Linked DNA regions of Homo sapiens. The protein of the gene in region 1 interacts with the protein of each later gene in a pairwise test. Each region holds a gene or a part of one and is shown in the gene's direction. Other genes may lie near its edges. The genes, in order: LAPTM5 and DISP1.

The links.
Region 2: the proteins of LAPTM5 (region 1) and DISP1 interact in binary tests that used the Homo sapiens proteins (3 or more experiments, as listed by UniProt).

The regions. Positions count from the first base shown.
Region 1 is NC_000001.11:30,752,826-30,764,742, reverse strand, and holds the start of LAPTM5 (lysosomal-associated transmembrane protein 5), read left to right. Parts: upstream 1-6,968; 5' UTR 6,969-6,997; coding exon 6,998-7,084; intron 7,085-11,917. UniProt on the Homo sapiens protein: May have a special functional role during embryogenesis and in adult hematopoietic cells.
Region 2 is NC_000001.11:222,982,250-222,993,951, forward strand, and holds part of DISP1 (protein dispatched homolog 1), read left to right. Parts: intron 1-830; coding exon 831-860; intron 861-7,106; exon of another isoform or gene 7,107-7,275; intron 7,276-8,375; coding exon 8,376-8,499; intron 8,500-9,270; coding exon 9,271-9,398; intron 9,399-9,605; exon of another isoform or gene 9,606-9,701; coding exon of another isoform or gene 9,702-9,763; coding exon 9,764-9,861; intron 9,862-11,702. UniProt on the Homo sapiens protein: Functions in hedgehog (Hh) signaling. Regulates the release and extracellular accumulation of cholesterol-modified hedgehog proteins and is hence required for effective production of the Hh signal. Synergizes with SCUBE2 to cause an increase in SHH secretion.

The DNA.
Region 1 (11,917 bases):
TTATCCCAGGAGTTCGAGACCAGCCTGGTCAACAAAGTGAGCCCCCATTTCTACAAAAGATAAAAAAGTTGGCCGGGCATGGTGGTGCATGCCTGTGGTTCCAGCTACTTGGGAGGCTGAGGTGGGAGGATTGCTTAAGCCTGGGAGCCCGAGGCTACAGTGAGCTGTGTGCAGCATTGCACTTCAGCCTGGGTGACACAGCAGGACCCTGACTCAGAAAAAAGAAAAAAAATTATATATGTATATATATTCTGAATTTGTTGGTGGTCTAGACCTCCTGCTCTTTAGCCACTTGTTGGACAGTGGCCCGGAGCCCCAGGCCTGATAGATCCCAGCCCTCCAAGCCCCTTGGCCAAAGAAACCCTTCCCTGCTGGGTGAAGCAGTGTGGCTGGCCCAGGCAGCAGCCCCTGGAGCCTGGTTGGTTCAGGTCAGGCCTCTCTTTCTGCTCCCTGCCTTTTGCCACAGCAAAGTCTCAGGTGTGGGGTGGCGTAGGGGGTTGGATCTGGGCAGTAGGGGTGGAGGAAGGCAGACAGATTTGGGAGGTGGGAGGGAAGCAGAATCCACAGGGCTTGGCGATTGGGAGGAGGTGGAAGTGAGGGTGAGGAGAGAGAGGAGGCTGTGCTGTGGTCTCTGGCTGGGCAGTGGGGAGGCTGGAGGGGCCAACACCCAGAGGGGTCAGTTTGAGATGTATGGAGTGCACGATGGGTGCGGTGTGTGCGTGTGTGTGTGTGTGTGTGTGTGTGTGTGCACGCCATACAGGGGTACTAAGACTCAGTGGCTGATCTGGGCAGGGACTAGCCACAGCTGGGGTCCCCAGAGTAGGGATGGTGGCCCTAGAACAGCAGGGGTGGCCCCCTCATGGCCTGGCCCTTCGGGCTGCTCTGTGCCGGGCACTGGCAGGAAGAGCCTGAGTCACAGTTGGGCTCTTCAGCCTGCAGCTGGCTGAAAATTTATGGATGTCCCTGAGAGGGGTGGTCAGGAGGCCTGGCTGGCTGACGGGAGCTGCCTAGCTGTTTACCCAGTGCCGAGGAATTTGAGGGCAGCAACAGCCCAGTCGCTTTGGAGGGGGTCCAGCCTCTGGGTGCAGCTGCTTGGAGTAACCTGCCTGGTGCCGGGGCCTGGCTGAGAGGGGCCAGGCCTCAGAGAGCATGGATTTGGACACCTCTTTGATGTTATAGACAGGAAAACAGAAGTTGGAGTGGGGAAGTGGCCATTCCAAAGCCCCACAGCAATTCTGTGCTCCAGTCAAGACCAGAAACCAGGCTAGGAAGGCAGCAGGAGGAAGTGATGGAGAGCTGTCACTTGCTGAGATGCTCTTGTTCATGTGTGTCCTTGTTCACCGCCTCCTCTACTAGAATGTTTGCTCCATGAGACCAGGGACCTTGTCTGCCTTGTTCACTGCTATGTCCTGAGCACACAAAACAAGGCTCTTGTTGAAGGGATGAAGTCAGAAGGCCTGGGGAGGTTTTTTTCCCTCACATTACAAGATGTACAGAGAAAGGAGGTTCAGGGCTGGTGCAGAGGCTTCATGATGGCATCAGGGATCCCGGCTCTTCCTCTCTTTCCGCTCTGCATTAGGGTATCGTTTTTGTTCTCATGGTCCCCAAATGGCTTCTGTGCCTCCAGGCATTGCACCTGCATTTACAGAAGGTCGAAGGGAGTTAGGACAATGGGTAGAAGACATGTGCTTATGAAGTCTGTCCCTTTCAAATCAAGAAAGTTGCAGCTTTCCTAGAAGTGACTAAATCGCACACCATGTGTAGTAGTTCTCTACCTTGCTTCTTCTTCTTCTTCTTCTTTTTTAGGTATCTAAAGCCTGGCCCCAGATTTGGTCCTCAGTGGGGCCTATCACTTTTGTTGTTTGCTAGTGGTTGTTGTTTCATTTTTTAAAATAAAAATCCCCTAGCTGGGGGAATGACCTAATGAGGTAACTCCTACTGTGGTGTTGATGGCAGTTGTGCTATTTTGCCACCAACTTCTTAAGGTGCCTGGATCTCTGAGGTTTTTCCTGAGGATGAGGTCAGCAGCAGGGAGGAGGGGGCTCTGGCAGAGGCTGGTGCTTAGGAGGGAATTACCTAGTCCTTGCAGCAGCACACTGGATGCGCTATGACAATCCCCACTCTACAGCTCAGAGTGAGGCAGAGGCTGGTTGGAGACCAGGGCCAGGAGGGAGCCGGGTTTTCCAGCTCCCCATGGATAGTACGGCTGCACCCATGATCTAAAATGCTCCGTCCTGGGGTGTGCCCAGAGCTGTTATTCAGCAGGAGGCTGCTGGCTCGGCTATGCAGACTTTGCAGCCAGTGCTCCTTCTGCCTGCTGGTCCCATCTCCCTGGAGCCTTCAGCCTGCAGTGCCTGTGGCAGCAGCAGACTAGGATATGGTGTCATTGTGCCCCTGGGTGCAGCCAGGGACCCCTGGACTGCCTGGCTGAGGGGAGGCCTCCTTGGAGTGTCTGGCAGACCGTTGGGGTCCCCTGCCTGCCCACTGGACTCAGCAGCTGGTCATTGGAAGGTCTGGTTGTCCCCAGGCCACAGGCCTGTGGGCTGTCCTTGCCAGGCTGACCCTCCAGGCTGACTTCAAGGCCTGGGCCCCTTCCACAGGCAGGGGAGTAGGGGAGGGACCCTGTGGGTTGCACGTGTAGGCCCTGACCCCTGGTGACCGTGCTGGGTTCGGGGCAGGAGACAGGAGAGAATGCTCTGCCGTTTCTCACATTTTTCAGGCCTTTGGCTTTGGCCCTACACATTCCAGCCCCAAACCTCAAAGGCAGAAGTGAGGTGGGGCTTGCAGCCAGAAGGGAATCACAGGCCAGTGGTCTGGCAGGAAGCTGACCTTCAGCCTGGGTGAGCTGCAGGGGGCACCCAGGAGCCCCTCGGGAGAAGACAGCCCTGGAGCTACCTTGGCTGCCACCACTCACATGCCGCCCACGAAGCTGTCCCCAAGGAGGACCTGTGTCCTGGCTCTGCTCCTGACCAGCTGTGTGTCTTGCAGCAGATCACTGGCCCCTTGGGTCTACGGGAGCTGATCAGTGCCTCTCTGCTGCCTTCCTCTGCTGGCTAGGGCTGGGGGAGGCTCAGCTGAGAAAGGGTTTAAAGGACAGGAAGAATCATAGTGACAATCGTGATCAAAATGCTTCCCACTGTGCAGTCCTTACCGTGACCCAGCCCCTTCTAAGTGCTTCATCTAGGTTAATGGAAAGGACACAAGACTCCCAAACTCTTTGTTTAAATACAAAAGCTGGCAGAGTCGTGGGTTTTATTTTTACCTCCAGGCCTATGGGTGAAGAGGGAAGTTCCAGTGATGTTCTTCTGACTTAACAAAGAAAGCTTACAACTAATTCTGCCTTTGAGGAAACAGAGCTGTCTGTTTAAATATTCATATACCATGGCAGCAAATTATTAAGCCAGATAACCAGCCAGAATTACAGACCTTTTCAGGATTAAAGATGACTCTCTAGGATCTGGGAACCATGTCTGAAGTCAGGGGGTCTTAGAAGATTCCTTTGTCAGAAATAACATTGACAAGGGCAGTTTGACAAGCAGATTTGTATCTGCTCTGCCGTGGCTGCGGTGGCATGGAACATTTCCTTGTCCTTATCTTGATGAATTCAGAGGGTCTGAAGTTTTCAAGGGTTCTACCACTCCACAAAGAAGGTATGAAAAGCAACTTGAAGAAGCTCAAAACTTATCATTCGTAACGGAAAACAGCAGAATATAAATAGTGAGCTTATGTGGTGTTGCCACCTGCATGTACAGACAACGAGATGGGCATTATCATTATCCCCGCTTGGCGCAGGAGGAAGCGGAGGCTCAGGGAAGTTCACGACTTGGCTGGGGTCACACAGCAAGGAAGTAAGGGCTGCACTTGTGCAGATGGGGACTGTGGTCTCGGTGGAGTGTGTTGGGCTCCAGCGACGGGGCCCCAGGCTCAGCTGTTGCTTCCACTGAGCAGCTGTATTTGTTCCCTGCGGCCGCTATAATAAAAGACCAGAAACACAGTGACTACAACAGACATTTATTGTCTTACAGTTCTGGAGGCCAGAAGTCAGGAATGCGCCTCGCTGAGCTAAAATGAAAGTGATTCCCTTTCGAGCCTCTAGAGGAGAAGCCATTTCCTTGCCTTTTCCAGTTTCTGGATGCCGCCTGCACTCCTTGGCTCATGGTTCTTCCTCCAACTGCAGAGCCAGGAGTGTGGCATCTTCCACTCCCTCTCTGACTCTGATCTTCCTTCACTTATGGGGACCCATTTGATGACCTCAGGGCCATCCAGATAATGCAGGATAATCTCCCCACCCACCTCAAGATCCTGAATTTCATGGCGCCTGTGAAGTTTCTTTGCCATGTAAGGCCATGTACGCACAGGTTCCAGAGATTAGGGTGGATTTTTTTTGGGGGGTGAGAGGCACTATTCTGCCTATCACAGTGGCTTTGGCCAAAGGGTCTGACCTTTGGGATAATAGCCGTCCTCTCCACAGGGGGTTTGTTGGGAATGACAATAAAGTGATTCAGGCTTGTACTCCACAGGGAGTGACTGAGGTGCCTGCCAAGGGGCCAGTGTGTGCTGGAGCCTGGTGACCCGGTGAGAGACAAATGACTGCATCAGAACTCCTGCTTCTGCGAGGGAGGTAGTGCCCGAGGGGACTCAGAATCAGACAGATCAGGGGTTCAATCCCAGCTCTGCCTCCTCCTAGCAGCCTGAGTACGGGTGAGATCGGGGAGCAGGGACGGGCTGGAAGGGAGAAAACAAACAGATGCATTCACGTGACCTCATTTCACCTTCACCGCAGCCCTGCCAGGCAAATTTCTGTTCCCCCCAACCGCCCCGCCGTTTTGCAGAGGTGAAAACAACAGCTCAGAGAGATCAAGTGCCTTGTCTGACACCACACAGCTACTAAGTGGGGAGCTGGGATTCCCCATGCCCCAGGATTCCCAAACGGATGCCACCTACTCCACCTCCAGGGCTGTCTGCCACATCTGCGTCCTCCTAGGCTGTGGCTTCCTTAATATGTTCTTTAAATTGACTTACTGCCTTTTTTATTTAAATGCATTTCTTTTAAAATGAGACTTTATATTACTCCTATAAATGGAAAATCACAGGATTCATGGACTAGTTATGTATATTTTTATAATGCACATTAAAATGAATTTATCACCATAAAAAATGAGAAATGTTTACCCATAGACCATGTACAATTATTCCACATGCTGTCAGTGTGTTTCATCCCTCTCTTTGGGAGTTGGCTTTGCACCTGTCCTGGTTTCACCAAATCACAATGTTATGAATGGCTATCATTTATTATGGTAGGAAATCGTCAAATGGCTTCTGTGCACAATCAAATGCAGACTCCCCAGCATGGCCTCAGGGCCCTCCTGGCCCCTGGTTTCCTGATCTCCAGTTCCTCTGGTCTTGCTACTCTTAGACAAAGGAGGACTTCTCTTGGTTTTCTGCCTACCCAGCCAGAAGATCCCAGGCCATGGGCCTGTGGAGCCAAAGTTCTTAACCACTGCACTGTGTCACCTTTCTATGATGTCAGGCCTCAGCAAGGCTTATGAAGGAACAGGAACAGCCTTGAAAATGAAGTTGGGAAGGGATAGGCCAGGCCTCCCAGGAGCCCAAAGCTTGCAGAGTCCCCTTGGTCTCATTGGCACATGGAGAATGGATTGATCAAGTCCACCAATCAAGTTTTGTGGGTCTAACAGAGCAACTCCTGCCAAGTGGGAGGAGCTTAGGGACTTTCTATAACCTCTCCTGGGGCAGAAATGATGGGCTGCAGCAGTGTCCAATCCTAACTCCATGATCTCCTGGGAGGGCAGGGCTTCATGGCAGTTCCTGTCTGCTCTGCACTAGAAGCTTGGCATTGCAAAGGGGCTCAGCTGTGGAATGAAGCAGGGCTTCTTCCAGAAATGTTGCATGTACTTCCTATTCCCTTTCTTTATTGCAATATGGATAATTTATCATCTGAGGAGGGAGTAGAGATTCCAGGGTAGCTTGCCTAAGAGTTGTGGCTTATTAATTCCAACTTTTTGCAAGATCAAGGGGGAAAAGCAATCCCTGATTTTGTGTGAGTATGGGGATTGGGTCTTGAGGCCCTGAAAGTGAGGTTCGGGTCTCACAGATTGCTGTGAAGAGTTATTGACCCACCTAGAAGAGAAGCCTAGCCCAGGGCCTGGCGCACAGTTGATGGGTTTGCTTCCTGGTTATTCTTCCGTCCTTGTCTGGAGCCCTGCACGCCTCTTCGTAGCTTAGGAAGAACAAGCTTCTCCCTGCGGCTCAGGGTGAGGAAGTGGGAGAGAACACCAGCTCCAGGGAGGCTTCTAGCACCAGTCAGCCTCAGTTAAAATCCTTGCACCTTCATTGACTAGCTGTGTGACCTTGCACGAATCATTCCCCCTCTCTGTGCCTCAGTTTCTTCATCTGTAAAATGGGGATCATAATAGTACCTCTCTCAAAGGATTGAGGTGAGGATGAAAGGAGTGAATCCAGGAGCATGCCTGGAAGAGGCAGGAAATGCCTCCTAGACAATAGCTATTTTTGCAGCCAGACAGATCTGGGTTTGAATTCTGCCACCAGTGCTAACTACTGTGTGATTTGGGGCAAGTGCCTTGACCTCTCTGGACAGCTGTTTCCTCATCTGGAAATGGGCTTGGTAACAGTCCTGGCTTCCAAAGTTGGTAGTGTTCTTCTAGTAAGCAAGCTGTGTGAAACGGTGGAACCCTGGCCCTGGTGCAGAGAAGGGCATGATGACCGTGTTAGGGTCTGTCCTCTCTGGAACCCCCTCCTGGGAATGGCAGAGGGCAGTGGGGTGCTCTGAGGCAGGCTGCTGCCCTGTCCCCACTCCCCCTCCCCAGCTGCCCCGCCCCAGCTGTGACGACCTTGTCCCTGCCTGTCTAAGGGGCAGGAAGGAAGTGAGGAGGGCAGCCAGCAGCTTCCCCTTCTCTGCCCTGCTCCAGGCACCAGGCTCTTTCCCCTTCAGTGTCTCAGAGGAGGGGACGGCAGCACCATGGACCCCCGCTTGTCCACTGTCCGCCAGACCTGCTGCTGCTTCAATGTCCGCATCGCAACCACCGCCCTGGCCATCTACCATGTGGTGAGTGTGCGGGCCCCGGGTGTGTGTGCGTGCGTGCTTGTGTGAGTGTGAATGTCTGCGGTGACCCGTCATCTACGGAGCCCCACAAATGAAAGAACTCCTGCTCTCCACCTCTCTGGGGGACCCTGGGCAAATCCCTGTCCTGCTCTGGGCCTCAGTTTCCTTCTCTGTCAAATGGCTGGGGGTACCCTGGGGAGATGCCGCAAGAGTGAGGAGTAAGGGAGCTGGAATCCACTTTCCAGGCAAATGTAACTGACGTTCACTCCGAGGCTGGCTCCGTTTCTGCCTCTGTGAGATGGGGCACAGCAGCAGCCGGAAGGTTATTTGTGTGCAAAGCCAACAGCAGATGTGAAAGTGCTTTGGAAGGCAGGGATCTTGGGAGGAACGTGGGCTGGGATTGTTTGACCGGGATGTGAGGTCGGCCGCAGACACAGCCCCGATTCTTCCCCTGGGGCCTGGAGGGAGCCTGGGCCACTCGAGGGGATGAGAAGTGGGGATCTCCCCTTTGTGCCTCCAGTGGGGAGGCAGGGGCCGTGTCCTCTCAGCTTCCAGCTCAGTCAAACCACGGCCTTCTGCCCACCAAAGAGAACTTGAGACCTGTGCTAATCATTAGGGTAACTTGTCCGGCCCAAGCTCTTGTTGGGCAACTTGTGAAGTCACGGCTGTCACTGGTTCCTCCTTTCCTGGTGACTCACAGTGTGGTCTTGGGCAAGTCACAGTGCCCGGGGGCCAAGGCTGCCCCTCTGCCTGGGGTGGCTGAGGGTCAGTGTCCTTGTACTGTCCTGCCTAGACCCACCCTACTCCCAAACTCCTGGCCACACTCATCTCCCCTAGACCCAAGCGACTTCCTCCTGGGGTGACTCAGGGCCTGTGGTTAACAGTTTTCTCATGAGTCTGGAAGGGCTTCCTCAAAATTAGCCTAGATCCACATGCTGCGGTGGGTTGCTGCAAACTCAGACCTGCCTGCGTCTGCTTCCTGTCACAGGCAGGGCAGGCAGAGCTGTGGCAAGAGCCCAGCCTTCAGGGGGGCGATGCTGTTCAGTGGTTAGCCCACGGCCTCTGGATGCAGACTCCTGCATGCAAATCCTGGCTTCCCTGCTTCCCAGCTCTGCAGCCTTGGGCAATTTACTTAACCTCTCTGAGCCTCAGTTTTCTCATTTAAAAAAATGGGGATGTGAATTATCATACCCATCTGATAGGGTTTGTTGTGAGGCTCAGGGAGTTGATACATACAAAGCATGCAGAACCACGCCTGACGCACAGGTGAGTGCTTTATTATTCGTTGTGCATCAGACATGGCACCTGCTGTCAGCATCCTTGGAGTCAAGTTGTCAGATTCAAGGACTCTAGTTTTGGGAGGAGGAACTCAGAGGTTGTCCTTCCGAGCTCCTGCCAATGCAAGAGCTGAGAGAAGCAAATCACTCTTTGAGTGTCCCTGTACCCTGTATTTTAGGCCTTCAAGCTCTGAGACTATGCACATTCTTAGAAGGACAGTGTGGCATGCAGGGGCGCCTCACAGGTAGCAAGTCCCTGGGTCCTCACCCCAGCCCTGCCACTAACTGGCTGTATGGGCTCAGACAAGCCTCTCTCTGGGCCTCAGTTTCCCTTTTATAAAGTCAGGGGTAAGGTGATGTTGACTGGCTCAGAGGTCTCCAACTCTGATGCCTCTAGGGTCTGGGCAGGCCATGTGAGTGACAGCAGGGGGCAGATGGGGCCTGCGGTGACCCCGGGAGCCCTTGCTTGGCCCACCCTGCAGCTGTTCTCTGTTTTTGCTTGTTGTTGCCACGAAGGATTGTGGGCCCTGGTGGCCGCTCTTCTGATGTTTAGAGAATAGGGAGCAGGCTTTTGTGTCACATCTTCTGATGTTTCAATGCTAGTGATTGATGCATGGTAGAAAAAAATCTCAGTGCAGGCCAAGTCAAATCCATTTGCAGGTTGTGTGGGCCCAGAGGCTGCCCTGCAAACCCGGGACTGTGGGGCTGTTAAGGTTTCTTGTTGATCGTGCCATCCGATGTCCTCACCTGTAAATGGTGGTGTGATATACGGTCCCTGCTCACAGAGCTGAAGAATGTGTGGGCCCTAGCAATCATGGAAGACTTCTTGGAGGTGGTGCCATTGGCAGGAGGGAGAGTTTGGTTGTGGGCAGTATGGAAGGTGAGGAGAAACAGGTGAGCAATGGCGTATGTGTTCGGCTTCTACAGGGACACAATAGAGACAAACCTGGAGTTTGGGGAGGAGGTGATAAAGGTTTTGAGTGACAAGCTAAGAAGTTGGATCTTCTCTGCAGTGCACCATTGATATTTTGGGCTGGATAATTCTTCATCTTGGGGGAGTGAATTGTGCGTTAGAGGAAGTTCAGCAGCATCCATGGTCTCTACCTACTAGATACTAGCAGCACTGCCCATCTCCCTACCCTGCCACTTGTGATAACCAAAAATGTCTCTAGTTATGGGGCCCAATCTCTCCCAGTTGAGAACCAATGCCTATGAGTGATGAGACGTTCTAGAGCAGGAGCAAGCAAAAGAGCAGAGGGGTGTCCTGGAAGCTGTGCGCTCGGCCCAGGTTGTCTCCAGGCTGTGGTCCTCAGTTGACTCCAGTGGGGGGTTATCTTCCTGCACCCCGAAAGAGTCCTCTCTCCTTCCCAGAAAGGGCAGGGCCTGGGGGCTTTCCCATAGGCTAGCTGGCAACAGGTGTGCTGATAGGACCTTGAGCATCTGGATGGAAAAAGAGAAGCTGTGGTCCAGATGTGTCAATAGCCCATGCTGGCTGTCATCTGGACCCAGCCATGGGTGACGACTCTGCACATCATGAGCTATTTGTGGACTTGGCCCCTCTAGGGAGGGTTAAATTGAGACCTTGCCATCCTGAGACAGTGCCACGCTCTATTGAGTCATGAGGGCGTTATTACATGAGGGAAGCCTGGTCCGTAGCTTTGGGCTCGGGCATCTTCCTCAGGATGTCAGTGGGTTTGTGTAGAGGATTCTCTGGGTCACCCAAACTTGCACACTTTGGGAACCCAGCAAACTTTCTTTCTTTTTTTAAAAAATCTATTCTTTTTTTCAAAGTTCAGTAACTTGCCCATCTTTTGTGGTTTGATTTGTTTTGTTTTGTTTTTGTTTTTAAGAGATGGGGTCTTGCTCTGTCACCCAGGCTGGAATGCAGTGGTGCCATCACAGCTCACTGCAGCCTTGAACTCCTGGGTTCAAGAGATCCTCCCACCTCAGCTTCCTGAGTAGCTAGGATCACAGGCGCATGCCACCATGGCCAGCTAATTTTAAATATTTTTTTTTGTAGAGACAGGGTCCCACTATGTTGCCCAGGCTGGTCTCAAACCCTTGGCCTCAAGTGATTCTCCTGCCTTGGCCTCCCAACGCGCTGGGATTACAGGCATGAGCCACCGAGCCCAGTCTAGAGAAATTTCTTAAATTGGGTCTCTTGGGTCCTGGCTTTTTGTCAACCTGAAGCACGTTCTAAGTCGATGGTAGAAAGTGGACACCCCCAGAAGACACTTTTGCCCAGAAATCTCTTTCTTCCTGACCCCTCTTCCCCAGAGTGCCCGGAATTCCACTGTCAGAAATGCATTGTCTGGGTTAAAAAACTTAACACCTGCTATGATTTCAACAGTGTCAAAACAGGATACGTCAAAACTGGGCGAGGAGGAAATGTATTTGGGTTCTAGGATAGTGAAAGCTCTATTTTTTCTACTTTTCTGTATTTTCCATATTTGGTACAATGAGCACGTACTTAGAACGGTTTTAGATTTACGAAAATATTGCAAACACAGTACAGATAGTTCTTGCGTCCCCCATGCCTAGTTCCTCTATTGCTAACGTCTCAACGTTAGTGTGGTGCGTTTGTTGCAATGGGTGAATGAATATTCGTGGGCTGTTATTAAAGTCAGTGCTTCACCCCTATTTCCCCAGCTTTCCTCTTACATCCTTTTTCTGTTCCAAGATTGCATCCAGGATGCCGCGTTACATTTAGTCTTCACACTTCCTTAGGTTCCTCTTGGTATGATGGTTTCTCAGATTTTTCTTGTTTTTGATAATCTTGACAGTTCGAGGAGTATTTGTCAGGCATTTTGTCAAATGTTCTTCAACTGGGGTCTCTGGTGGTTTTCTCATGATTAGTCTGGGAATGTGCTTTTGGGAGGAAGACCACAGAGATGATGTGCCAGTCTCAGAACATCGTACTAAGAAAAGGTTCTGCCAACTTGACTTACCACTGTTGCTGGTGACTTTGAGCCCCCGGCTGAGGTTACTCCTTTGTAAAGTTACTCTTTTTTTCTCCTTTCCATGCTGTATGTTTTAGAAGGAAGTCACTATGCTGCTCCAAGCAACTCAAGTTTGATGAATGGGGAGTTCCGCCCCACCTCCTTGAGGGCAGAGTAGCTACATAAATTACTTGGAATTTCTCAAGGAGATTTGTCTGTACTCCCAGTTTATTATATAAATAAATGATTTATTTATATTACAGGGACCCAGGGATCTTTACTGTATGCTTTGGGTTATAATCCAATGGTACTTTACTTTGTGGCTCAAGTATACTACTTTTAAATTGGAAAAAAAAAAAAGTACGGCCAGGTGCGGTGGCTCATGCCTGTAATCCCAGCATTTTGGGAGGTTGAGGCGGGTGGATCACTTGAGGTCAGGACAAAACCCTGTCTTTACTAAAAATACAAAAAATTAGCTGGGCATGATGGCGGGAGCCTGTAGTCCAAGCTACGCGGGAGGCTGAGGCAGGAGAATTGCTTGAACCTGGGAGGTGGAGGTTGCAGTGAGCCGAGATCGCGCCACTGCGCTCTAGCCTGACAGAGTGAGACTCTTTAAAAAA
Region 2 (11,702 bases), about 190 Mb from region 1:
ATCTGGCTTTACACACATCTGTAGTTGGAAAAGGGAGGTCTCACAAACCCCATGAAAGGGTCTCAGGAACTCCCAGCTGTCTTTAGACCACACTGTGATAACCAGTGTACTTTTGTTTGTTCAACAAATATTTATTAAATGCTTTCCAGTAAATAGGAAAAAAATAATCTGATAGGAATACAAAGTTTGGAGATTGAGACTTAGTTTGGAGTTTCTTTAGCAAACTTATCCTATATCTGGGAGGCAAGGTACAAAGGATGAGTGGGAATAATAAAACAGTATGGGAAAGAGCTGATTGGAAATACAAGCCCGTATCTGTTGAAGTAGATTGTGAAGTTAGATATTAAGAAACTGAAAAATGGAGAAGCAGCTGGTATCTTGAAGAGGGAATAGAATACCTAAAAGAAGGTATTAATATCCAATTTTTTTAAGTGTTGGGATCTTTGCTACGTAAGGAAGCAGCTTAGATTGGAGACTGAGGGATGTGGATTCCTGTTAGGGGAGAGAAGACTGAATCTGGTAGCTGTAGATCTCAGAGAAGAATGTTGTACAGTGTGAGTATGATTCCATCAGGAGAGGGTGATACGGAGTCTGGGAAGGTTCTGCCTCCTGACTAGCCACTCGAGCTGTCTCTACTAGTATGTAAAGTAGCCAACATTCATTGTTTAAAATCTCTCAAATAGATTGCCTTTTTTTTTTTAACACTTCCAAGATTCTTTGTAAGAGATAACAAGTAAAATGTTCAACACATATGTAAAGCCTTTGTTTATGTTATGATGTTTATGATGCTCTGTTTTTGATCATTTTTCCTTTGCTTTTTTTTTTTTCAGACCATCCAGACCTTTCAAGTTGCCAAAAAGGTAAAGTAATCTGGGTCATCTTATTAAATAATAAACTTACCTGCATGCTTTTTCCAGTCTAGTATTTTCTCCGTATTTTGCTGTTCTTTTCACTTTCCTCATTCATATTTTTATGAAAGAAAAAGAAATGTCCCATGAGTTGGCTGCTTGAGGAATTCCATATCTCCAAAAGTGGTTTTAATCTTAAGGTAGATTTCTAACCCTATTAAATTCTATTTGTGTCTAGGGCTAGGTGCAGTGGCTCATGCTTGTAATCCCAGCACTTTGGGAAGCCAAGTGGGTGGATCACCTGAGGTCGGGAGTTCGGGACCAGCCTGGCCAACATGGCAAAACCCCATCTCTACCAAAAATACAAAAATTAGCCAGGCGTGGAGGCACGTGCCTTTAGTTCCAGCTACTCGGGAGGCTGAGGCAGGAGAATCGCTTGAACCTGGGAGGTGGCAGTTGCAGTGAGCCAGGATTGTGCCACTGTACTCCAGCCTGGGGGACAGAGCAAGACTCCATCTCAAAAAAAAAAATATTTGTGCGTAAACATTTATATTTGTTTATTTATTTTGCATTCCTTCCTGCAACGGATTGGCTTACTTAGTGAGGAAAGAGATACTGTTCTGCCAACTACCATGACTCGAATTCATGGCAGTTTATTTCAGAGGGGTTGTCTTTCTTTTTAAAAATCTTGTTACCAATGGAAGTATTCTTTTATGTGGAAATGTCTAAGGCTTATCTTTCAATAGAGAAAATTTTAACTTGATAAGAGTTCCTAAAAAAAGCGTTTTCTCATCAGATGTCCTTACACATTGTAATTCCAGATACAATGTCATTACACTTAAGAAATTCTAAGTGATCTTTGAAATTCAGTTGCCAAAGAAGCTCAAATGCTGATAACACTGAAGCCTGCCTCAAGGGAGTTATCCTGTCTTTGAAGTGAAATTACTACATAAATATTAATTAGTAAACTCTCCTTCTATTTAAAAAAAAATATATTTTTAAAATTGTGGTAAAATATACATAATAGGCCAGGCGCAGTGGCTCACGCCTATAATCCCAGCACTTTGGGAGGATGAGGCAGGCGGATCACTTGAGGTCAGGAGTTTAAGACCAGCCAAGGCAACATGGGGACACCTGTGTCTACAAAAAAATACAAAAAGTTAGCCAAGCATTGTGGTTTGTACCTGTAGTCCCAGCTACTTGGAAGGCTGTGGTCGGAGGACCTCTTGAGCTTAGGAAGCAGTTTGTGCTTAGCTGAAATACACCACTACACTCAAGCCTGGGTGGCAGAGCCAGACTCTGTCTCAAAAAAAAAAAAAAAAAAATATATATATATATAGAGAGAGAGAGAGAGAGAGAGAGCGTACTCATATATGTTATATATAACATAGGTTTATATGTTATATATAACATAGGTTTATATGTTATATATAACAGGTTTATATGATAGATATAACATGTTGACATACTTTAAATGTTATAACATGTTTATATGTTATATATGTTGTATATATAACATGTTTATATTTGTTGTATATATAACATATATGTTGCCTTTTAACTATTTTTAAGAGTACAGTTCATTGGCATTATGTACATTCACATTGTTGTCTAACCATCACCACCATCCATTTCCAAAACTTTTTTTCTGTTGTAAAACTGAAATTCTGTACCCATTATACATTAACTCCCCATTTTCTCCTACCCCCAGGCCCTAGCAACCATCATTCTGCTTTCTGTCTCTATGGGTTTGACTGCTGTAAGTACCTCGTATGAGTCGAATCCTACAGTATTTGTCCCTTTGGAACTGGCTTATTTCACTTAGTGTAATTTCTTCCAGGTTCATTCATGTAGCATGTATTAGAATCTCCTTTTTGTAAGGCTGAATAATATTCCATTGTATGTATATACTACATTTTGTTTATCCAATTCCCTTTTCATTTTTGCAAAAAAACAAGAGAGAAAGAAAAAATGAGGGAAAGAGGTATGGAAGTAAATACGGCATATTAAGAAAACAAATTTCTACTTTTCTATAAATAGGGCTTTTGCAAATGACTAAAAATTTTACTTTGAAAAGATTTCTTTCTCTGTTATTAAATTGGTGTTATTAAAACAGAGTTCTAATTTCTTTTACGTACATGTGCATATAAATATAACTTCTTCAACAAAGCCTTTCCTGATTCCCCTTTCCCACCTTGGCTGGAACTTATTGCTTCCCTTATTGAATTCACAAAACATTTCATCTGTACCCCTCTAAAAAACACATATTTTTGGCCGGGCACAGTGGCTCACGCCTATAATCCCAGCACTGTGGGAGGCCGAGGCGGGCAGATCACGAGGTCAGGAGTTCGAGACCAGCCTGGCCAACATGGTGAAACCCTGTCTCTACTAAAAATACAAAAATTAGCTGGGCATGGTGGCGGGTGCCTGGAATCCCAGCTACTCAGGAGGCTGAGGCGGGAGAATTGCTTGAACCCGGGAGGTGGAGGTTGCAGTGAGCCAAGATCGTGCCACTGCACTCTAGCCTGGGTGACAGAGCAAGACTCCGTCTCGGGGTGGGGGAAAGAAAAAAACAAAAAGCACACACTTTTTTTAACCTGTCTTGTAGATATTTGTGTGCCTGTCTTATTTTCTGTATTAGGCTGTAAATTCCCTGAGGGCAAGATCCAAGTCTGCCATTTTTGTATTCCCAGAATGCCTTGCTTCCTTATTGTTTAATGCTAATTGTTGGATGAATTTGTTACTTCACAAGAAAAAGAGTTGTATATTCTTTTCTTTTTTTTTAATTTTCTCAAACTTCAATCACTCTTCTCACTAAGTTGATAGTTGATGCCACTGGAAAAGTTATGACTTAACATTTTGAAATGTCTTATCTTTAAGGGACAAGAGGAATAAGAAAGAGTTATTAAGAGAAACAGAAAAGAATACACCAACGGGGAAAGGATTTTTAGGAAGAAAGAGGTAGCTAACAGTGTTAAATTCTGCTCAGGTCAAGGAAGGTAAAAACCAAGAATAGTTAGTTGACTTGGGCAGTTCAGAAAAGTCATGAGAGCAAAAGCCAGGCTATAAGGGGTTAAAGATCCGGTGGTCGGTGAGGAAAAGGAAGCCTCTGGTGTGGGCACTGAATTATACCATCTGAAACACGGCTTTCTGCTCAGAGGGAAGAGAAAAAAGAAGAGTGTTTTGAGAAAGGCAGCAAAGAGCAAGGGAAAAAAAATCTTTGTAAGCTAAGAGGAAAATTTATTATGGGGGAATGTTATTGTAATATAAATGACCCACTTAAAATTGGCCCCCATTTTAATGTCACTTGAGCATAAGCTGGCTCTATAAGATACTTCGTTTATTTGTTTTAACAGTTATTTCTGATCTGTTTCCAGAGTAAACCCAATAATAAGGTGACTGAAAATCTCTGACTATGTTTGAGGGACTTCCACTGAGTACCAGTGAAAACTCCAGCATGGCAGTAACACCCTGGACCAGAACGCCAGGCAGCATGCCTGCTAACTCAGATCCATGGTTCATCCACGAACGCATTTCATTACCTCTGCTACTTCTGTTCCTTCTTCTGTAAAAGGAGAATGAGCCCTTCAGATCCGTCTCCTATTAGAGACTTAACCTATTGAGAAGATGATGTGAACTTTTATACAGCAGTGCCCTGTAAAGAGTTGTGGTCCCTAACCTCAGCAGCTAGTACAGCAGTAGGGCCTCCGGGAAAAGGGTCTTTCACTGGAAAATGACTACCTGCTGTAAGCCAGGTGTTACAGAGGTGGGCCACATTTACAGTTATATTGTGGTGTCTAAAGATTTTCAATATTAGAGAAGGTGGATGAAAGACAAATATGATTTGATATGCAGAAGAATACATGATAGTTAAAAGAATGGTTCCTTTGAAAATTCTTCTACTCTACATGTGGTTCACTTTTCAAAGAGAATAATGCACAGGATATGGATATATATATATATATATAGCATCATCAAATATATATATATATTTGTGAGATTTATAGACTATTTTTAATTTCCTTTACTTCTCCAATTTTCCTACTTTATTAGACTTTTATCTTCATATTACAACCATTGTCTGGATTTCATATTGCGCAGGCAACTCTGTTTCCCATGTGGTACCCACAGCTATACTATATATTTGCATAGATAGCAGGAGGAGTAGAATTAGCCTCAGCAATTTTGTGGTGTTGAGAAGAAATACTTGTTTGAGTAAAATTTACTTAGAATGATTGGGCTTTCCCCCATGGTGTTTTATATACTCAGGATGGTGATCCCATTACTTAAATGTGAACAGTTATCTCTAGGAAAGGTTAGCGTGGGAAACATCGGCTGTGTAAGGAAGTGGAATTGTAATATAGTGAGGTTAAACGTGTTTGGAAGAAATGTGCTGAAATCACTAATGCCATAAAGTTTCCATATGTAGTCAGTGCACGTATATGGTGTGTAGCAGTGCTGTAAAATCAAAACCAAATGTTTTCAAAGGGAAGAAAAGCAATTATTGAATGGGGCTTTTAACGTTGCTATACGTGTGTGCAGATTTTCAAGAACACAAAATTAAAAGTTATTATATGGGTTAATTAAACCACAGTATGAATACTAAGCAATTTGGGGCCTACTGCCCTCTATTGATAACATGTTAATAGGTAAAAATGCATAACTTCTGATTCATTTGAGAGAAAATGAATCCATTTAAAATAAAGTGTAATGAATAATTGTATAAGCCTGGGGCCATTTTCATTTCACAGGGCTGATATTTTAATGGTCTAAAATGTAAAGGACTCTTTTTAAGTCTGAAGCAATGAAAGTAGTCTCAAATGTGCTATTGAGACAGAGGACTTTATTGCTTCAAAACTAGTTACTTTCATCTTAGTTTGCATTTTGTGGAGGAGGAAATAAAGTAAGGAGAATATTTTTGCACAGGGTGTGTCCTAGAAGTGTGAAAGCTTCTAGACACTTGGTGTTTACATTTGAACAACCACAATCAGCTTATTGTCACTTAAATGTTTTTATTATTTTCAGAATTATTCTAAAAGGTTATTCTGTCATTTTTCCTGAATGAGTTTTTAAATCTAAAATTTGCAGTCTAGTGAATAATGTTCAAACTTAGAACCCATATGATTTTGCATAGAGAAATTAACTATAAATAGGGCTAGGAATTTTTAATTGTAAGTTTTGGGAAACAGACATTTGTGGCAAGTGTAGTTATTCCTAATGTTTCTAGTTACTCTTGTGTCTGAAGAAAGAAATGACAGCCCAGAGATTAAAAGCCCTGACACTAGAACCAGACTATCTAGGTTCCTAGTTTTGTGACATTGAATAAGTTCTATAACTTGTCAATGCTGCAGTTTCATCTCCAAGGGTTGTTGTGAGAATTGAACAATATAATAATTTATGTAAAGCACAAGAGCAACTGGTATTCTGAATAAGGACGAGCTTGTATTTATTTATTTATTTTTATAAGATTTCTCTTTCTCTCTCTCTTTCTTTTTTCTTCCTTTCTCTCTCTTCTCTTTCTTTCTTTTTTCTTCCTTCCTTCCTTTATAGCTTTATTTCTTTCTCTTTTTTTTTTTTTTTGACAGAGTGTTGCTCACCCAGGCTGGAGTGCAGTGATATGATCTCTGCTCACTGCAACCTCCGCCTCCTGGGTTCAAGTAATTCTCCTGCCTCAGCCTCCCAAGTAGCTGGGACTACAGGCGTGTGCCACCATGCCCAGTTAATTTTTGCATTTTTGTAGAGACAGAGTTTCACCATGTTGGCCAGGCTGGTCTCAAACTCCTGACCTCAGGTGATCTGACTGCCTCAGCGTCCCAAAGTGTTGGGATTACAGGCGTGAGCCACTGTGTCTGGCCTTTTAAGATTACTTTAAAAGAGCAGCAGTGAAAAGTGCCTGTGCACATGCTCCCTTAAAGCATAATTGCTCTATATTTTAATATCCTTACTAGAATTATAATTTGAAGCAAATATCTCCACAAAGCCAGATCAATAAAGTTAAGACATCAGATTATAAAAATTGGCAGTCTATTATTAGAGACATATAGTAGCTTTTTTTCAGACTGACATTTAGAGCCACCAGAATTATTTGTAACTACTAGCATGATTTTGAAGAAATAACTCAAAAATATATGAGTAAGAATCCTATTTCAAATGAGCCAGAAATAGCCATTGCAGCAGCCAAATGAGCTAACATTACTGAGAATTTGAGAGTAGTGGTCCACAAGTTAAATATTTTGTCTTGCTTTTCTTCTAATAAAGATTCAAGAAGCCAGAAGTTTGCAGGATGCATTTTGAATTTTAGAAAACGTTCAGTTTAGTCAGCTTCTGTTGGGTACTCAGCTCATATCAAGACTTGGAAGTGCCAAAATAATAACGTGTGATCCAGGACCTCATGGAAGGGATACAGAAACAGATCTTTCAATTTGAGGTAACAAATGAGGGTGTGGGAAGCGCATCTGGAAGAAAGGGCCCAGTGTTAGGATTTGGTAATAGAGACAGTTCTGCACATGTGGGAAGAGACTAAAACCAGATTGTAGTAGCTGGAGAGTACAAGCATCAGATGTTTGTTCATTTAGTCAATAGATAGTTATTGATCAACTTCCACTGACAAGAATTTCTGCTCTCATGGAACTCACATATCTAGTGGATATGCTCACTGTAGTTTTAGCTAGAAGGAAAGTTACAGGTTTATGGGAAGTGTTTAGTTTAGTTTTTTTTTTTTTTGAGACAGAATCTAGCTCTGTCGCCCAGGCTGGAGTGCAGTGGCATGATCTCAGCTCACTGCAACCTCCACCTCCCGGGTCCAAGTGATTCTCCTGCCTCAGCCTCCCAAGTAGCTAGGACTACAGGCGTGTGCCACCATGCCCAACTAATTTTTTGTATTTTTAGTAAAGACAGGGTTTCACCGTGTTAGTCAGGATGGTCTCGAACTCCTGACCTTGTGATCCACCCGCCTCAGCCTCCCAAAGTGCTGAGATTACAGGTGTGAGCCACCATGCTCAGCCCTTAGTTTGGTTATTTTTAAGATCTGAACTGTATGAACCTGTTTATAGACTCTCACTGTTTAAGAACTCTGAGAGTAAAGGTGTGGAGAAAGGGAATAACTAGAGAAACAAAAGTTCTGAAAGACACTGATTGGAGTATGGATCCTCTGTTAAAATTTATTTTCTTTCCACTGATGAAGTGTGTATTTTATATCTCTTTACAGGCATAGATGTAGATATAAAATGTTACTTGTCATATATGAACATTATTCTGACTCTCAATAGCCTGTGGCATAAAGTGCTACTTGATCACAAAAATGAGGGGACAATGATCTTGTAACTTTCTACTACAATTACATACAAATATTTATAATCCCATTAGATATTGTATTGATAAACACCTGTATGTAGTCTACAATATGAGGATTTAATAAATTGCTGTCTTAGGTACCAAAAATATTTCTGCGAAGGGCCTTCTTTGTGCCTTCTTTGTGTTTCTGTAGTTATGCAGCTCTGATAGCCGACACTTCTTTGTGTTTTGTAGTTATGCAGCCCTGATAGCCGACTGGCCGGTGGTGGTCTTGGGCATGTGCACCATGTTCATCGTAGTCTGTGCCTTGGTTGGAGTATTAGTGCCAGAGCTCCCTGACTTCTCTGATCCATTGCTGGTAACTAACTTTTATGTTTTCTTTAGCCTAAAATCATCTCCAAATATTGTGTATTTTAATACATGTTGCATTATGTTATTTAGTAACCCATTTCTTTAAAAACCTTCTCAAGCAACAATTCTCTTTCTGAAAAGTAAAGACATGACTTTATCTGTATTATCAGGTTCTTAAAAGGTCAAGGAACTTGTTTACCCTCAAAAATCTGGAAGGTTTGCTTCTTGGTCCCCATGTTTAAGCTAAAAAGCAATAAATTGGAGAATCTGCCTTCTACAAAATTATTCTCATAAAGTCTTTAACACTGTCTCTGTTTTCTCCCAAAGAAGTTAAAGGAATTTCAGTATTACTAACAGATCACAGAGTCTGTTTTTAAGTAAATGTTTCTCTGGAGTGGAATAATGAGGAAAATATGATCAAGGATAATGAAACACTCTTTGTAAAAATACAGTGCGTAACATGATTTAATTTGATCATAATTTTTATAAGATAAAAGTAAGTATTTACTAAATGCTTAGGCATGAGTTGGAAAGATAAACTTTCTTTAGACATGTAACATACCAAAGAATCAAACTGTTTTGTCACAGCAAATAGGTGATGATTATCATGTCAAGGCATCTTGTTTTAATGCAGTCACCTCTGGAGTAGCTGTGAGGAACAGCTATATTTTCTGTTGAAAGCTATATATCACTTTGACATTGCTTTCCCAAGCTTTTATTGTAACTGTACTTAGCCTGAAATGAAATATACTAATGAGCACCTGTAATTTTGCCTTAGGGTTTTGAACCAAGAGGAACAGCAATAGGCCAGAGATTGGTCACATGGAATAATATGGTGAAAAATACAGGATACAAAGCAACATTAGCAAATTATCCCTTTAAATATGCAGATGAACAAGCCAAAAGGTAATCAATTATTTATTTTTATATAACTTTTAGACAAAACATTGCTGAATGAATTCCTCTTCAAATACTGCCTAAACAAAAAATTTAAATGTAAAATGTGTGGCTCAAAATCTTTGCCACTGAATTTGCTTAACTTGTCATTGTGTTTGAAGATTTTGTTGTAGTAGGATGAAAAGGTGAGATTTTCTTTTTTTTTTTCTTTTTTAGAAGTGAGAAAATTAATGTTGGTTGCTTCTTCTAATCCTTTCAACTTAATATCAAGGACTAAGCAGGTCATGGCTTTGAGGAAGTAATGTTTCCAGTATGCTTATCAGCTTTGAAATAACGAGAACTTTATTGAAGATCAAATTGTCGTTCCATTTCAGCCATCGGGATGATAGATGGTCAGATGATCATTATGAAAGAGAGAAAAGAGAAGTTGACTGGAACTTCCACAAGGACAGCTTTTTCTGCGACGTTCCAAGTGAGTGACATTGTAGATGAACAAACCACTCAGCAGTTTGCTCGCATTTAAAATTGAACATGATCACAGTCTAGACTGATAGCCGTGTGTGGCTAGTCACACAGCTTCACTGTTGCTGTTGAACCTAAAGAAATTTTGGCTAATTAACTTTTTCTTTTACTTCTCTAGTTTAGTCAACTACTAGTCTGAGTTTATTATATTATTAAAATTAATGAAAAAGTAATGATTGAGTTTTCTTATTTTAAGGAAGATATAAATCTAATGAAATTCTTGACCTTGCCCAACATTTCAAGTCTTTTTAAAAATTCCTTGTACTATTTATTTCTAGATCAAGTACAGGTACATATTTTTGCATTGAACCTTGAAATAATCTGTTGAATTATTAAAAAATTATTTAAAGTTCCAATTCATTCTAAAGTGAATCAGAAAATGGCTTAAAGTTCTGATTCATTCAAAAAGCAATACTATATTAAGAGCCTTCTGTGTGTTACCTCATCACTAGGCAGTAGAGGTAGAGAGGTGAAAAAAATAAAGTCTAGAGGTTCAAAGTTTGAATGCCTCAGGGGCCTGGCATATAATCCAAGTGAATAAAGCTAGCTAGGTGTGACAGGAGAAGTGATGGTGATTGTGGAACACTAAGGAACATCTGCCCTGTCGAAAGAAATCGGCTGCTACTTAGCCGCGACAAAAGATGGGGTTCTAGAAATGAGGGCCCAAATGTTGCAAGAACTTGCCAGAGGTCAAAAACCCAGAATTTTTTTTTTTTTTGAGACAGAGTTTCGCTCTTGTTGCCCAGGCTGGAGTACAATGGCGCAATCTTGTCTTACCACAACCTCCATCTCCCAGGTTCAAGCGATTCTCCTGCTTCAGCCTTCCCGAGTAGCTGGGATTACAGGCATGCACCACCATGCCTGGCTAATTTTGTATTTTTAGTAGAGACGGGGTTTCTCCATCCGTGTTGGTTAGGCTGCTCTCGAACTCCCGAACTTAGGTGACCATACCGCCTTGACTTCCCAAAGTGCTGGGATTACAGGCATGAGCCACCGCACCTGGCCAAGAATCCAGATTTGAATGTGGAGCCATTAATTCTCTAAATGTTGGCAACAAATTCACTACCCAAAATTTGCTGTAACATGGAGTCAGCCTGATTACTCTGCAGCTGCCAGAGAAGAAGGAAGGCACAGCCTAGAGGACATGAATATAAGTATGTAAGCCATTGATTAGCCATAGTGATTAGGATTGAGGAATTGTGGATAGTATAATTTTTAATTAAGTGAATATTAACATTAAAGCTCTTTTGATTTCAGCTTTTGCTGTTGGTGTTGAAAATCCCTCTTAAATGTATTTTTTCCTGTCTTATTAGAACACTAGATGACCTGATTGGATCTTTGATGTTTCTGGAGTTTACCAAGTCTCAGGGTCTTTATTTTGATCACTTACTCTGTATAGTAATAGATAGTAGGAGATGAGGCAGAACCTTATACTGATCCCAGGAAGCAATACATGTTTCCTTTTCTGTCTCTTCTCTTAAAAAACATTAGGAAATTGAACTCTGGTTACTTGCATGTTCTGGCTGGTTTATTTCTCTCAATCAAAGTATTAGTATATATTATTGCTTAACCAACATCTGTTAGTTATGATCTTAACCAGGAAAAACATTACATTTCAATAGTCAACAGTAAATGCTGTCTCATAAGTAGATTCTGCCTTGACTAAAGCCATTACCAGCTCTATGTAAATGAAATGCTTCAGTTTCTACCAGGCTGATTTTGCTCTCCAAAATCAGTCAACATGAGATAATAGCCAAAACTTCATGATCATAAATAAAAACTTTTATAATA